2 linked regions of the Homo sapiens genome follow. The protein of the gene in region 2 binds, or shares a complex with, the protein of the main gene of each other region. Each region holds a gene or a part of one and is shown on either strand. Other genes may lie near its edges. The genes, in order: MIEF2 and DNM1L. A codon is read from its position in the direction of its gene.

Region 1 (3,685 bases), on a different chromosome or scaffold from region 2:
ACATACCTACCTACTCTGCATGAAGCTGTTGTCGCCAGGGTGTTGGACTCTGGGGCAATGAGAACTCGTCACCAAGAGCTCACTATATGTGAGGATCTGAACTGAGTGCCTTCTCAGGTGCCACTGCAGGTGAGAAAAGTGAGGCCCTGGGACATCACACAGCTAGTTCTCGGTGGCGTTTTCTTAACTAATCACAGGCTGTTCCGACATGTTCCCCGCCCCTTCACTCTGCAGAAGGGCCTGCAGAAACTGATCCTGAGGTGACACCACAGCTCAGCTCCCCAGCACCGCTGTGTCTGACACTGCAGGAGAGGCTGCTGGCCTTCGAGCGGGACCGTGTGACCATCCCAGCAGCCCAGGTGGCTTTGGCCAAACAGCTGGCTGGCGACATCGCCCTGGAGCTGCAGGCCTACTTTCGGAGCAAGTTCCCGGAACTGCCCTTTGGGGCATTCGTGCCTGGGGGGCCGCTCTACGACGGGCTGCAGGCGGGGGCTGCGGACCATGTGCGTCTCCTGGTGCCACTGGTGCTGGAGCCGGGCCTGTGGAGCCTGGTGCCGGGCGTGGACACTGTGGCGAGGGACCCTCGCTGCTGGGCCGTGCGCAGGACGCAGCTTGAGTTCTGCCCCCGTGGGAGCAGCCCCTGGGACCGCTTCCTGGTCGGGGGCTACCTCTCCTCCCGCGTCCTGCTGGAGCTACTCCGCAAGGCGCTGGCTGCTTCTGTCAACTGGCCGGCCATTGGCAGCCTTCTCGGGTGCCTGATCCGGCCCAGCATGGCCTCGGAGGAGCTGCTGCTCGAGGTGCAGCACGAACGCCTGGAGCTCACTGTGGCTGTGCTTGTGGCAGTCCCTGGGGTCGATGCTGACGACCGCCTCCTCTTGGCCTGGCCCCTGGAGGGGCTGGCGGGGAACCTCTGGCTGCAGGACCTGTATCCAGTGGAGGCTGCTAGGCTGCGAGCCCTGGACGACCATGACGCTGGGACTCGCCGGCGGCTGCTGCTGCTGCTGTGTGCTGTCTGCCGTGGTTGCTCGGCTCTGGGGCAGCTAGGCCGGGGTCACCTGACCCAGGTGGTCCTGCGTCTGGGGGAGGACAACGTGGATTGGACGGAGGAGGCCTTGGGTGAGCGCTTCCTGCAAGCCCTGGAGCTGCTCATCGGCAGCCTGGAGCAGGCCAGCCTGCCCTGCCACTTCAACCCCAGCGTGAACCTCTTCAGCAGCTTGCGTGAGGAGGAGATTGACGACATTGGCTATGCGCTATACAGTGGCCTACAGGAGCCCGAGGGGCTGCTCTAGGTGGGTGGAAACGGGTGGTTGCCATGTTTTCTAATGCTGGGGAGCTGCACCCACCTCCCTTCCAGGGATTTGAATAGTGGTTTTTCTCTAGCTTTTTGCCAGAACAAAGGAGGGTACATTACTTAAACCCAGGGCATCAGGATGTGCTTGGGCTATGGTGGCCATAAACCCTGAGCCCAGAGAGCTTGGGTCACTGTCACCTGAGTGCAGCTGGGCTGCCTCAGGCAGCTTGGAGTGCCAGCCATTCCTGCAAGCACCGTTTCAGCTCTTGGGGCCAACCCCAGGACCTTTGGCTCTGTCCATCACCAGCAACCAATCCACCAACAGAATGTGGTTTCTGCCATCCTGGGCAGAAGCTGAAGGCCAGCTTCACATTTCTGCTGAGAGAAGGTGACTTAACGCCTTTTCCGGCCCTAGCTCCAGGCGTTTTGAGGCGTCTGGTGCCTGATGGTAGGTATGGTGTGTTTGTTCTGTCCCCCAGGGGCTGGAGTCACCTGGTGCCCCTGAAGGACAGATTTTTGGCTGTTAAAGGATGGCATTTTCCTGCTGTCTTCTGTGCGTTTAGTTTTCTTGCTGAGCGGGAGCTCAGTATGACTTGCCACCCACCTGATACCTCAGGGCAAGGCCCTTTTTCCCTCCAGCCAGGTGAGTGTTTTCTTCAGGCAGCTGAGGGTCCTGGGGGAGCTGAGGCTCTGTGCTGCACCCCCAGCCCACAGCTGGGGCATCTCACTGGAGCTGTTCCAGGCCCCACTGGAGAGCAGAGGACCTGATCCCCCACTAGAGAGGTCCGGTGTGCACAGCCGGCCTCCCAGTGTGCCAAAATGAACTGCTCTCAGCTGATGGCTGTATTCTGACTTTGAAGCCTGTTAAGAGGTAGCAAGGGGGCTAGAGGAGGGAGATTCCACCTCCCCTCCCAAGTGACCCTCCTCCTGCCTCTGGTATCCTTCCTTTTGAAACGAAGCTCAGCTTCGAAGATGTGAACAAGAATAAAAGGAAAAAATTCTAATGTATATATAACTCAGGCTGGATAAGGGAGTCTTGGTGCTTTCATACGCAGCTGTTGAGGGTTTTCTGTAAGTCCTGTGGCTTGTCCTGGCACTTTGGCAAGAGTGCTTGAGGTCAATTGGAGGTGGTAGAGTTTACTTTAAAAAGTAGCATCTTGGCCGGGTGTGGTGGCTCGCATCTGTAATCCCAGCACATCGGGAGGCCGAGGCGGGCGGATCACGAGGTCAAGAGATCGAGACCATCCTGACCAACATGATGAAACCCCAACTCTACTAAAAAGACAAAAATTAGCTGGGCGTGGTGGCACGCACCTATAGTCCCAGCTACTCGGGAGGCCGAGGCAGGAGAATTGCTTGAACCCGGGAGGTAGAGGTTGCAATGAGCTGAAATTGCACCACTGCACTCCAGACTGGCGACAGAGCAAGACTCTGTCTCAAAAAAATAAATAAATAAGCATCTTGGCCCCGCGCTGTGGCTCACGCCTATAATCCCAGCACTTTGGGAAGCCGAGGCCGGTAGATCACCTGAGGTTGGGAATTCAAGACCAGGCTGACCAACGTGGAGAAACTCCATCTCTGGTAAAAATTCAAAAAAATTAGCTGGGCATGGTGGCACATGCCTGTAATCCCAGCTACTTGGGAGGCTGAGGCAGGAGAATTGCTTGAACCCGGGAGGCGGAGGTTGTGGTGAGCTGAGATCGTGCCAGTGCACTCCAGCCTAGGCAACAAGAGTGAAACTCTGTCTCAAAATAAAATAAAATAAAATAATAATAGTAATAATAAATTAGCATCTCAGTCTGTTTGGGCTGTGATAACAAAATGCCATAGACTAGGTGGCTTATAAACATCAGAAATTTATGTCTTACCATTTTGGAGGCTAGAAATCCAAGAGTGAGTCACAGATTCCATGTTTGGTTGAGAGCCCACATCCTGGTTCATAGGTGTCCCCATCTAGCTGTCCTCATGTGGAGGAAGGGGGGAAATGCTCTCCTAGGGTCTCTTATAAGGAAACTAAGCCCACCCATGGGGTGGGGGCCCACATTCATGATCGAATCACTTCCCAAAGACCCCATCTCCTGTTAGCAGTGCCTTGGGGGTTAGGATTTCAGCATACAAGTTGAAGGGGACACAGACTTTCTGTCCGTGACAAGTAAGGTAAGTGGAAGGAAAAGATGAAAAGCTTGGTGTTGCTTTAGTAATGGGAACCAGCCAGTTTGGGATGTTTCTTCCCGCAAGGCTGAACTGCTGAGCCCTGCACCATACTTTCTGTAATTAGTGGGCTGTTGACAGCCCTTCAGCCATGCTCATCATTTTTTAGAAACCTGTGTTTTTTTTCTTTTGAGAGTGAGTATCACTCTGTCGCCCAGGCTGGAGTGCAGTGGTGCGATCTCG
Region 2 (7,294 bases):
TACCTTAAATGGCTTCAGTTTCTATCTTGTTGAACTTTTTGGAACAGTGATTCTCAGACTTGAGTGTGTATTAAGAATCACTTTGGTTTTTTTTTTTTGAGACCGAGTTTCGCTCTTGTTGCCCAGGCTAGAGTGCAGTGCCATGATCTTGGTTCACTGCAACCTCTGCCTCCCGGCTTCAAGTGATTCTCCTGCCTCAGCCTCCCACATAGCTGGGATTACAGGCATGCACCACCACGCCCGGCTAATTTTGTATTTTTAGTAGAGACAGAGTTTCTCCATGTTGGTCAGGCTGGTATCCAACTCCCGACCTCAGGTGATCCACCCGTCTCGGCCTCCCAAAGTGCTGGGATTACAGGTGTGAACCACCCCGCCTGGCCTAAGAATCACTTTGAAACTAAGTTTCCTGGATCCTGTCTCCAGAGATTTTGATTTTATAAGCCTGGGTTGGGTGAGGGACCATAGGTGATTCTGATACAGATGGTTCCTAGATCCTAATTTGAAAAACATATTAGTGAATCATTGGATTTTAAAATGCATGATACTGGAAAAAGCAGGAAAATTAGGGGAGGTTGAATCTATGGCATACTACCATCCAGTACCATGCTGACTTTGGTGGCATTCTTGCTTTAATATATCACTTCCCAGGCAACCATTGCTGACCCCTAAATGTTTTAAACTTTGGTTTTATGAAATGCCCAAGTAACACTCATTTGGGGGCTAGGGACTTGGAGGAGTGGAGGTGAGGGAATCCTGTTTACAGCTATCAGTCATTCACATGTTTTATGTGTTAGCTAAATAAATTGCTTTTATTTTTTCTAGTAGAGACCATCTGTGTGAAATGAACAGACACAGTGGGGAGAGAGAGAAGGCTGATGATACTTTTAGACCATGGTGTAACTTTGCAAGTAGAGGAGATAAGACTTAAAACAACTTTTGTGACTCAACTTGGGAAATTTAATCCTATTTCTTAAATTAAGAATTGGAAAGGGGAGCCCTCCAGGTATGTAATCTAAACTACCACCCAATATAGGTATCCGAATACAGATGACATTAACCTGAGACTCTGGCTTAGTGTTCCTAGTAATGTACTTTACACTTTTCCTTTTATTTCAGTGATTTCAGCATTCTATCTTCAGTAATTCAGACAAATGTAAAAGGAAAAACAATTTGGATTTTTTATTTTTATTTTTTTAGGGTCTGGCTCTTTCACCCAGGCTGGAGTGCAGTGGCATAATCCATAGCTCACTGTAACCTCAAATTCCTGGGCTCAAGCAGTCCTCTTGCCTCAGCCTCCTGAGTAGCTGGGACTACAGGCACGCATCTGGCTAATTTTTTTTTTTAAATTTAAAATCGCTGCCTTACTATGTTGCCAAGGCTGGTCTCAAACTCCTGGGCTCAAATGATCCTCTTGCCTTGGCCTCCCAAAGTGCTAGGAGTATAGGTGTGAGCCACTGCACCTAGCCTAAAAATAATTTGGATTTTATTTTATTTTATTATTTATTTTTTTAGAGATGGAGTCTTGCTCTGTTGTCCAGGCTGGAGTGCAGTGGTGCGATCTCAACTCACTGCAACCTCCGCTTCCCGAGTTCAAGTGATTCTCCTGCCTCAGCCTCCTGAGTAGCTGGGATTACAGGTGCATGCCACCACGCCCAGCTAATTTTTGTATTTTTAGTAGAGATGGGGTTTCACTGTGTTGGTCAGGCTGGTCTCGAACTCCTGACCTCATGATCCACTTGCCTTGGCCTCCCAAAGTGCTGGAATTACAGACATGAGCCACTGTGCTCGGCCTAATTTTTGTATTTTTAGTAGAGACAGCATTTTACAACGTTGGCCAGACTGGTCTCAAACTCCTGACCTCAAATGATCTGCCTGCCTCAGCCTCCTGCTGGGATAACAGGTATGAGCCACCATGCCCGGCCAGTAATTTGGATTTTAATTTCTAATTTGCAAATCAACTTTTAAAAATTTAACATTAAAAATACTGAAATATTCATGTAACACAAAATTCACCCTTATAAAGTATACACAACTCAGCAGCGTTTAGTATGTTCACAAAGTTGTACCACCATAGTGTAATTCCAAAATATTTTCATTACCTGAAAAAGAAAACTCCTGCCCATAAGCAGTCACCCCCGTTTTGTCCTCCCCCAGCTTCTGACAGGTTTTGATTTTATAAGCCCCACGTGGGTGAGGGTCCATCGGTGACTCTGATACAGATGGTTCCTAGATCCTAATTTGAAAAATATATTAGTGAATCATTGGATTTTAAAATGCATGATACTGGAAAAAGCAGGTATCACTGGCAACCACTAATCTACTTTTTGTCTGTATGGATTTGCCTATTTGGGATATTTCACATTAGTGGAATCCTATAATATGTGATTTGATCTTTTGTGCCAGGCATCTGTTGCTCAACATAATTCTTTTTTTTTTTCTTTTTTGAGACAGAGTTTTGCTCTGTTGCTCAGGCTGGAGTGCAATGGCACAATCTCAGCTCACTGCAACCCTTCACCTTCCGGGTTCAGGTGATTCTTCTGCCTCAGCCCGGATTACAGGCGCGTGCTACCGCACCCAGCTAATTTTTTTGTATTTTTAGTAGAGACGAGGTTTTGCCATGTTGGCCAGGCTGGTCTCGAACTCCTGACCTCAAGTGATCTGCCTGCCTCAGCTTCCCAAAGTGCTGGGATTATAGGCATGAGCCACTCAACATAATGTTTTTTAGGTTCATCCATTATGTAGCATGGCAGAATAATAAATATTACATTGTATAGATACAGCACAGTTTATTCATCAATTGATGAATTTTTGGGTTGTTTCTATTTTTTGGCTATTATGAATAAATAATGCTCTGCGAACATTCGTTTACAAGTTTTTGTGTGAATGTGTATTTTTTTTTTTTTTTTGAGATGGAGTCTCGCTCTGTCACACAGGCTGGAATGCAGTGGCGTGATCTTGGCTCACCGCAAGCTCCGCCTCCCGGGTTTACGCCGTTCTCCTGCCTCAGCCTCCCGAGTAGCTGGGACTGCAGGTGCCCGCTACCACGCCCAGCTAATTTTTTGTTTTTAGTAGAGACAGGGTTTCACCGTGTTAGCCAGGATGGTCTCGATCTCCTCACCTCGTGATCCACCCGCCTCGGCCTCCCAAAGTGCTGGGATTACAGGCGTGAGCCACCGCGCCCGGTCAGTGAATGTGTATTTTTGATTCTCTTGGGTATATATCTAAGCGTAGACTTGCTGATTCATATGATAATTCTTACGTTTAACTTTCTGAAAAACTACCAAAGTGTTTTCCATAGTGGCTGCACCTTTTTTTTTTTTTTTTTTTGAGACAGGGTCTCACTTTCTCGCCCAGACTGGAGTGCTGTGGCGCTATCTTGGCTTACCGCAACCTCTGCCTCCCAGGCTCAAGGCGTTCTCCTGCTTCAGCATCCTGAGTAGCTGGGATTACAGGTGCCCGCCACTACTGCCCGGCTACTTTTTGTATTTTTAGTAGAGGCGAGGGTTTCCTTATATTGGTCAGGCTGGTCTCGAACTCCTGACCTCAAATGATCCACCCACCTCGGCCTCCCAAAGTGCTGGGATTACAGGCGTGAGCTGCTGCGCCCAGCCGTGGCTGCACCATTTCACATCCCCTCCAGGGTTCAGGTTTCTGCACATCCTTATCAACACTTGTTGTTATCTTTTTTTTTTAAGCGCTAAATCATTCTGGAATTCTTTATTTGAAAAACAGCACTTTTTGACACCTATGCCATTTCCTTCTCTTATGGACAACTTTTTTCATAGTTTGATGTCCCTCTCTCTTTTTTTTCTCCATGAGCACTGCTGTCTACATTTTAGCATTTATTGACTATAATTTAATTCCTGCTTATGCATTGTTTTCTTGTGTTCTTAGATAAATTTATGTTTTTCTCTTTTTTTGTATAGATTATGAGCTGCTGCTTTTTTTTAACTTAACAAAATTGAGGTGAAATTTGCAGAACATAAAATTAGCCTTTTTTTTTTTTTTTTTTTTTTGAGATGGAGTTTTGCTCTTGTTGCCCAGGCTGGAGTGCAATGGCGCGATCTCGGCTCACAGCAACCTCCACCTCCCGGGTTCAAGTGATTCTCCTGCCTCAGCCTCTCAAGTAGCTGGGATTACAAGCATGTGCCATGCCTGGCTAATTTTGTATTTTTAGTAGAGACAGGGTTTCTCCATGTTGGTCAGGCTAGTCTCAAACTCATGACCTCAGGTGATCCGTCCACCTCGACCTCCCAAAGTGCTGGGATTACAGGTGTGAGCCACTGTGCCCAGCCAAAATTAGCCCTTTTATAAAATGTATAATTCAGTGTCATTTAGTGCATTCATAATGACATCTCTGTCTAGGTCCAAAACAATTTCATCACGAAAGAAAACTACTATTGAGCTGTCACTCCCTCTTCTTTCTTTTCCATTTAATGGCTGAGTAATATTCTGTTATATGTATAAACCACATTGGTTTATTCAATCACCTATTGATGAGCAATTGGGTTGTTTCTGCCTTTTAGCTGTTGTGAATAGTGCTGCTGTGAATATTGGTGTACAAGTATTTGAGTACCTGTTATCAGTTATTTTGGTATATACCTAGGAGTAAAATTACTGGGTTCTATGGTAATTTTGTTTAACTTTTTGAGCAACCACTTTTCCACAGCAGCTACACCATTTTAAAATTCCCACCAGCAATGTTTGAAGGGTGCAGTTTTTCTGTATCTTTGTCAACATTTGTTATTATCTGTTTTTGATTATAGTCATCCTAATGGGTGTGAAGTTTTGTTTTGCATTTCCCTAATGACTAATGGTGTTGAACATCTTTTCATGTGTTTGTTGGGGTTGTCTTATTGTTGAGGTTGTAAGAGTTCTTTTTTTTCTTTTTTTTTTTTTTTTTTTGAGATGGAGTCTCGCTCTGTTGCCCAGGTGGCCAGGCTGGTCTTGAACTCCTGACCTCAGGTGATCCGCCTGCCTTGGCCTCCCAAAGTGCTGGCATTATAGGCATGAGCCACCACACCCGGCCTTGTCTTTTTGCTTCCTTGTTAGTGTCCTTCAATACACAAAAGGTTTTACTTTTGGTTAAGGCTAATTTATCTTTTTTTTTCCTTTTATTGCTTTATGGTGTCATATCTAAGGCATTGACAAATCCAAAGCCGTGAAGATTTTTTTTTATTTTTTAATGTTTTTTCCCCTAATTATTTTATAGTTTTGGCTTGTATATTTAGGCTTTTGATCCATTTTGAGTACATCTTGGTATGGTATGAGGTAGGGGTTCATTTCATTTTTTTTGCACGTGCTTCTCCAGTTGACCTAGTACCATTTGTTGGAGAGACTGTTCTTTCCCCATTGAATAGTCTTGGCATTGTTGAAAATCAGTTGAGCAAAGATTTTGTTGTTGTTGTTGAGACAGGGTCTCACTCTGTCACCCAGGCTGGAGTGCAATGATGCAGTCTTGGGTCACTACAGCCTCCACCTCCTGAGTTCAAGCGATTCTTCTGCCTCATCCTCCCAAGTAGCTGAGACTACAGTCACCTGCCATCACGCCGGGCTATTTTTTTTGGTATTTTTTTTTAGTAGATACGGGGTTTTGCCATGTTGGCCAGGCTGGTCTTGAACTCCTGACCTCAGGTGATCCATCCACCTCGGCCTCCCAAAGTGCTGGGAATACAGGCATGAGCCACCATGCCTGGCCAGCCAAAGATTTATTATATGGGTTTATTTCTGGATTCTCAGTTCTATTCTGCTTTGATTACTGTAGCTTTGGAGTATATTTAAAATTTGAGAAGTGTAACTTTACCAGCATTGTTTTTCTTTTTCAAAATTGTTTTGGTTGTTTGGGGTCCCTTGTCATTCAATATGAATTTTATTTTATATTATTTTATTTTGAGAGGTAGTCTTACTCTGTCGCCCAGGCTGGAGTGCAGTGGCGTGATCTCGTTTCACTTGCAGCCTCTGCCTCCTGGGTTCAAGCGATCCAACCACCTCAGGCTGCAAGTAGCTGAGATTACAGGTGCCCACCACCATGCCTGGCTAATATTTGTTTTTTTAGTAGAGATGGGGTTTCACCACGTTGGCAAGATTGATCTCAAACTCCTAACCTCAGGTGATCTGCCCACCTTGGCCTCCCAAAATGCTGGGATTACAGGCGTGAGCCACTGTGTGGGCCCCGTATGAATTTTAGATTTGGCTTCTCCATTTCTGTAAACAAGACAGTTGGGATTTTGATGGGGATTGTGTTGCCTCTATAGGTTGCTTCAGGTTTTATTGGCATCTTAACCATTTTAAGTTAGAATTTTTGATGGGGAGGTTTTTTCTTTTAGCACTTTATCTTACTGCCTCTGGCTCCTATGGTTTCTTTTCTCTTTTCTTTCTTTGAAAACAAGTTTATTAAAGTAAAGGAATAAAAGAATGGCTACTCCATAGGCAGAGCTGCTGTGGCCCCTATGGTTTCTGATGAGAAGTCTGTTGTATCTGTTGTTAGTCTTACTGAGGATCCCTTGTTCATGACTCTTAGCTTCTCTCTTGCTGCTTTTAGCATTTGTCTTTGTCTTTCAACAGTTTGATTATAATTTATCTCAATGTGTGTATTTCTTTGTGTTTATCCTGCTTTGAGTTCATCGAGCTTCTTGGATGTGTAGATTCATATCACTTTTTCATGCTTTTATGGAAGAAGTGGGGATTTTCACAGACGATAATTCTGCCTTATCAGATATCTGAATCTCTCTCTTAGTGATCTAGAAAGCACTGGACCTATAGTTTTATAACCAAGAAAAAATTCCTTCCTAAGGACTGTTAGGTCTGCAGTATTTTAGAAAGTTTGGATTTTGGGTATTAAGTTCATATAAGAACACTCTTTTAAGCCAAGTGTGGTGGCCTGTGCCTGTAGTCCCTTTTACTTGGGAGACCTGGTGGCAAGGCTGCTTGAGCCCAGGAGGTTGAGGGCTGTAGTTCACTGTGATTGTGCTGTGAATAGCTGCTGCACTCCAGCCTAAGCAACATAGTGAGACCTGGTCTCTTAAGAACAAAAAACACCCCACATATTAACTACAAATTATGAAGTGGTTTAAACTTCATATTTATATTTTGTCATTAGGTAGAGGGTTTGAGCTATATGGTAGAAACATTGTAGTTTAGCTATTTTATTTTATTTTATTTTTGAGGCAGAGTTTCGCTCTCGTTGCCCAGGCTGGATTGCAATGGCGTGATCCTGGCTGACTGCAACTTCTGCCTCCTGAGTTCAAGTGATTCTACTGTCTCAGCTTCCCGAGTAGCTGGGATTACAGGCATG

What was found.
Region 1: the proteins of DNM1L (region 2) and MIEF2 are in contact, whole or in part, in a cryo-EM structure (PDB 5WP9), measured with the Homo sapiens proteins. Residues at the interface, in NP_036192.2 of Homo sapiens: Asp190, Met191, Ala192, Thr193, Ser194, Leu197, Lys198, Ile199, Arg201, Glu202, Gly223, Thr224, Asp225, Asp228, Arg233, Val234; in NP_631901.2 of Homo sapiens: Val213 (codon at 561), Asp214 (codon at 564), Thr215 (codon at 567), Val216 (codon at 570), Arg218 (codon at 576), Arg226 (codon at 600), Leu230 (codon at 612), Arg235 (codon at 627), Val245 (codon at 657), Gly246 (codon at 660), Tyr248 (codon at 666).

The regions. Positions count from the first base shown.
Region 1 is NC_000017.11:18,263,476-18,267,160, forward strand, and holds the end of MIEF2 (mitochondrial dynamics protein MID49), read left to right. Parts: intron 1-234; coding exon 235-1,289; 3' UTR 1,290-3,077; downstream 3,078-3,685. UniProt on the Homo sapiens protein: Mitochondrial outer membrane protein involved in the regulation of mitochondrial organization.
Region 2 is NC_000012.12:32,682,052-32,689,345, forward strand, and holds part of DNM1L (dynamin-1-like protein), read left to right. Parts: intron 1-7,294. UniProt on the Homo sapiens protein: Functions in mitochondrial and peroxisomal division.